2 separate regions of the Homo sapiens genome follow, and region 1 is linked to region 2. The links come from fine-mapping of genetic effects on gene expression. Tissue or cell type: cerebellar hemisphere. Region 2 holds a variant in brackets; the other region holds the start of a gene. All regions are shown on one strand. Distances are from middle to middle.

Region 1 (2,706 bases), 24 kb after region 2:
CCTTGACATCTCAAGCTTTGTCATTTACTCACTGTGTGACCTTGGGCCAGTAGTGTCCCTTCTCTGAACCTCTGTTTCCACCCCTGCAAGTTGGGCAGATGAAGGTTCAGTTTGAAGCTGGTTGAGCCCTTGGAGTGACAAAGCAAGGGACTGTGAATGGACAAAAATGAGAGAAATAAATTCTAATAGGCATGAAGCAACCAGGGGAGAAATAGTCCCAATTCTACCCAAAGACTGATGGGCACTAATTTAGAATCCAGTCTCAATTCTACCTTCAATACGGTGTGTGACCTTGAAAATGTCTCTTAATCTCTCTGAGCCTCATGAGTCAAATCAGGATAATGTTAATACCTGCTTCAGAGTTCTGGTGAGGAGCAAATGAAATAACTCCTGTAAAGATGTTTCAGGAATTCTGTCTGACCAGGAAAAAGCCCTTGGGGCCATTTCTTCTTGGTCCCTGACAAGTGCCAGGCTGACGAGCAGAACTCAGGGTGGGGCAGGAAGTCAGTGGACAGTTTTGTGCCCCACTCACTGCAAGGTGGCCTCCCAGACTTGGCTGGATGGGTGAACCTGGCCTGAAAATCAACCACAAGCCCCTTTTCGTTGTGTTTGGAGAGGAGCTGAAGCTGTGTGAATAGGAGTTGAGCATGCGGCTGGCAGAGCAGGCAGGACCCACAGAACACCTGGGCCCACTGCCTGAGGGACAGTCACTCCCTTCTTCATTTGGCTGCTGCCCTGGGATCAAACGGATACAATAGAACCCACGGCGCACGGCTGCCAAGGAAGGGCAGGCCCAAGGGATTGGGCTCCAAGTCCTGGAAGTGGTTTCCCAAGTCACTAGATTTGCAGCGCACAAAACCGGAAAGGTCCCGGTAAACCTGTCCACTGGCACCTGGGCAGCGAAGCGCTTTGGCCGGAGGGCCTCAGGTCCCAGCAGCGGGATGGACAGCGGGGAGATGGCTGACCCTCCTTGGGGTGGTGTGCGTGACCTGCATGAGTGCCTGGGGCATCTCCTGCACGGAATGGCACCCGCACCAGGTGCCCCTGGCCTCGCCAGCCAGAGGACCAGTCCTGGACGGGGAGGGGGAGGACAAGAGCAGGTGAACAGGCCCCAGAACCCGGCTCCCTGACCCTGGCCATAATGCAGAGCTGCCTGGCGCACCTCAGACCACTCCCTGGCCCTCTGGTGGGCACGCCGGGGTGCAGACCCCTCGCCCCGCTGGCACCTCCGTGGCACGTGCGGGAGGGGCAGGAGCCGGGACCAGGAACCGCTGTGGTGAGAGCCAAAGGCACGGGGACTGGCCGCCACAGACCTTTGGCCACCGCAGTGGGGATGGGGGTGGGCGGGCGCTTGTGTGCCCGGGGGCCCGGGGGCCCCCGTGGCGGGGGGGCTAGGGGAGAGGAGCAGGTGACGTCACCCGGGGACCTGGGGCCCCCAGGGGCGGCGGCGAGAGCCCGACCTCGTGACCCGTCCGCGCCAATGGCCCTGCGGTCTCCCGGACGACGCGGAGGGGTCCGCGCTGCACCGCCGCCGCGCCCCCGCCCCGTGTCCGCACTGCAGAGAGCCGCGGCGAGCAGGCGCCGGCGCACTGGCCCACGTGCTGCGCGAGCGAGGGAGAGCCACAGTCTGAGCGAACGTCCGCGCTGGGAGCCAGGGGTGCCCGACCCCCGTCCGCCGCCGCCGCCGCCGCCGCGCATAGCCCCCGGAGAGCCCTCTGGGGACCCCGACCAGAAGGGACCTTGCCCTGGGAGAAGGTAACAGACCCACCTGGGGAGGGAGACGCTGGGCCCCGGGAGACTCCGCCGCCCCTCGCCTGTCCGCCCTATCAGAACTGAAGCAGCCTGCAGGGCAGGGGTCCAGGGTCCTGGGGCAGCGCGGGGAGGGGGCTGAGGCCCGCAGAGACCCCACGGGGGGTGGGGGTGGGGGGCTGGGCAGGGGCGGGGCCTGGCTGCAGAGGCGCCGCCCGGGGAGGAGGGCGGCTGGGGGTGGGGGTGGGGGTGGGCGTGGATGTGGGCGTGCGGAGAGGTGGGCATTAACCTCGCTCTCGCCCTGCTCGCATTCACAGGCTGTGGAGACCTGGGCCTTCTGCGATCACCCTAGGAGTTGATCCAGATATGTGCCTCACGCCCTGATCACTCCCCCCAAATTAGTATCCGCAGAGATTCGAGGACATGCCGTTGACCTTGTTACAGGACTGGTGTCGGGGGGAACACCTGAACACCCGGAGGTGCATGCTCATCCTGGGGATCCCCGAGGACTGTGGCGAGGATGAGTTTGAGGAGACACTCCAGGAGGCTTGCAGGCACCTGGGCAGATACAGGGTGATTGGCAGGATGTTTAGGAGGGAGGAGAACGCCCAGGCGATTCTACTGGAGCTGGCACAAGATATCGACTATGCTTTGCTCCCAAGGGAAATACCAGGAAAGGGGGGGCCCTGGGAAGTGATTGTAAAACCCCGTAACTCAGATGGGGAATTTCTCAACAGACTGAACCGCTTCTTAGAGGAGGAGAGGCGGACCGTGTCAGATATGAACCGAGTCCTCGGGTCGGACACCAATTGTTCGGCTCCAAGAGTGACTATATCACCAGAGTTCTGGACCTGGGCCCAGACTCTGGGGGCAGCAGTGCAGCCTCTGCTAGAACAAATGTTGTACCGAGAACTAAGAGTGTTTTCTGGGAACACCATATCCATCCCAGGTGCACTG
Region 2 (2,840 bases):
CAGTGGGGAGGCCAGGCCAGGGCTGGTCCCTCATCCCACATCAGGATCGGGGCCCCCCACCTCCCTCCAAAGGGCCCTGGCCACCACCATCAGCCCTTCCCGGTGACCCAGATGACCACGTTGATACCAAATGGGGTTGGGGGAGGCACCCCTGCTTTGCACCCAGTGCTGCACCCAGCCCCAGCCCCAAACCCTGCCGTCTCTGGGGGGCTGGCCAGGAGGGAGCCCTGAGTGGCCAGCTGCGACCTGGGTGGGGGCACCTGAAGATGTCTGTCCCCCACCCCTTGTCCTGGGTTGGGAGAGACAGGGGAAAGAGGTCCTCTCAAGGGTGCCAGCTGCCTGGGTCTCCCAAGAGGGTTGCCCCATTTGCCGTCCCCGGGGCAGGCTGCCCCCTGTTCTGGGAAGCCCACCCTCACCTGTTTAGGCCCCGTAGTGACCCACGCGCCCAGCAGACGCCCACCCACTGCTAGCTGTCGTTCCTGTGCAAAGTTGTGTGTTGTGCACCCACCCGGGCGGCCGCCACTAGGCCCGGGGCATGTGCTGTGAGCTTCCTGTGAGCCCAGGTTCTGCTCACTGCTGTCTGTCCTGCATCTTAAACACCACCTCTGCTTTCCTGGTGTAGATCTAGGCCAGTGGCTGCTTGTTCTCGTGGAGCTGTGTGTGTTCTTCTCTGAGCTGCTCCTCCCCGGAGGCCCCCAGCACAGACCCAGGAGATGGCGGGAAGGAGGAACCAGGGCGCGGCCAATGCTCACCCTGTGACCACGATGGTAACCATGACTGTGGGAGGAAGAGCCGGACCCGGGACGGAGTGGGGCTGCCCTGCCTGAGGCTCCCAGGAGAGCTTTATGCTTTGGCATTCCACCCCTGTTGTTACTTGTGACTGTTTCCTCGACCTGGTGGGCTGTTCCCTGCTGTGTTTACTGGTGTCCTGTGACTGTCTGTGATGACTATAGGGCAGGGCCCTGCCCCAGCAGATGGGCTTGGGAGGGGGCTCCCTGAAGCCGGTGGACACTGCCAGAGTCCACGTCCTGGCAAGAGGCGGGCCCTGGGGCCCTCGGGAAGGAGGGAGGTAGCAGTGGGGTCGGCAGCAGGACGGGGGTAGACGAGGCGCCTTGCCAGGAACCCCAGGAGGAGGGATCCTAGGACCTGTGTCCTGTAGTG[G/A]CTGTTTGCAGTTTCTCTCTGTGTTGTGGTTCCCTTCTTTTCAGTGATTTCGGTACACGTTTCTCTTCAATAAATTTCATTCCATTTTCCAGCCGGTCTCGCCTCTGCTGTGGGAAACTAGTGGGAAAGGTCTCTTTGGGATAAAATGGAAGTTGGGGGACAACAGTGGCCTGGAATTCTGACCCTATTGTGCTCACTGGGATACGGTCAGGGCATAGTAGGCCAGCGATTGTAGAGAATGACCTAACTGCGATGGTGGTTCCAACCCAGAGTCAGTGGCTTATGAGGATGAGGAAAGAAACCAAGCTGAACATGCTGGATGGTGCCAGTTGACGGAACACTGCCGTGCGAGGGCAATGTGTGGCTTGCTCCCCAGGGCATGCATGGAGGCTCCCAGAACGAAGTGCATAAGACGTGGAAGGGCAGGCAGGGGACAGCAGGCTGGGGCGGAGGCCTGGGTTGAAGCTCTAGCATAGACATCTTTTTAACTGTTCCTCAGTTCCTCATGTTTATCCTGTGTGTGGAGCTTTCACCATCTCTTTGGAAAGACAGAAGAGATGGATAAGGAAAAGGAGTAGAACAGAGCGGCACCCCTTGCCTTCCCCAGAGTCTGGGTAGCGGGCGCAGGACGTGTCGCCTGTCCAAATGCGCAACTTTCACCAGTGTACGCTACGCGTGCGCGCCTGTGCACCTTGACGAGCACGCAGCCGTCATGAGTGCGCCTGGGCACGCCGCCATTTCCTGCAGCCGCGACAGCACGGTCGTATATTTCCGGTTGTCATTTTATTCTTTTTGAGAAATGGTCTCGCTCTGTTGCCCAGGGTGGAGTGTAGTGGCGCTGTCATAGCTCACTGCAACCCCGACCTCCTGGGCTCAAGCGATTCTCCCGCCTCAGCCTCCCGACTAGCTGGGACCACAGGCGTGCAACCACCATACCCGGAACCACAGTCACAGTCGGTCGCAGTGCCCGCTGGGAAAATGCGACCGTCCACAAAGCGAAACGGCCATCGGGGCGAGTTCGGCCTCGGCGGGGATTCTCCTGAGGTCACGCCCGCTCTGGCCGCCAGAGGACGCCCGAGGATCACGAATGGGCCCGAGGAGCTGGCTGCCCCTTCCCACGCTCAAGGTCTGCAGCCGTGGCCAGAGTGGCCTTGGGGTGACCGCGCGTGGACCGTCGCCGGCGGGAGGGAGCGCGGTCCCGCGGGGGCCGAACGGGGCTCCTGTGGCCTGAGCTTGTTTCGCAGGGAGCCCTGGCGGCCATGGCTCTGGGACACCAGACAACGGTCGTCAGGGCTGTCCAGGGTAAGGGGGTGTGGACGTGCAGACAGGGAGGGCAGCTGGACCCTCCAACCATGCTGGGCCCTTGGGCTGACCGGGGCTCGTCTGTGGGGCTCAGTGAGGAGGGACTTTGTTCCCTAGGAGTTTGATGAGGGAGCGCCATGGGGGTGGCGTCATCCTGACATCCTGCAGGGCAGTGGAGCCTTACTTTCCCTAGCCCCAGAGATCATGAAGTCTCTCTTTGTTTAAAGGTAGAAACCAAGGACAAGAGATTGGTGGGAACTGCTCTGGTTACAAAATTGCAGAACCAGACTTCTTAATTCTGGGACCCGTGCTGCTTTCATTACACTCTACCGCTTCCAGTTTGTGATGTGCTCCTTCTGTCAACAGTTAGCAAGCCT

The links. PIP is the estimated chance that this variant, and not a neighbour inherited with it, causes the effect.
Region 1: PNMA3 starts here. The variant in region 2 is fine-mapped to the expression of PNMA3 in cerebellar hemisphere (GTEx, PIP 0.98).

Annotation. Positions count from the first base shown.
Region 1 is chrX:153,054,884-153,057,589 of GRCh38, forward strand. PNMA3 (PNMA family member 3) reads left to right here and starts at 1,587. Exons shown (of 2, transcript NM_013364.6): 1 at 1,587-1,755; 2 at 2,067-2,706. The coding sequence starts at 2,173.
Region 2 is chrX:153,030,599-153,033,438 of GRCh38, forward strand. No RefSeq gene overlaps it. Among named protein-coding and RNA genes, the nearest start is that of PNMA3, 24 kb to the right of the region's middle. The variant G/A (reference allele first, on the strand shown) is at 1,162.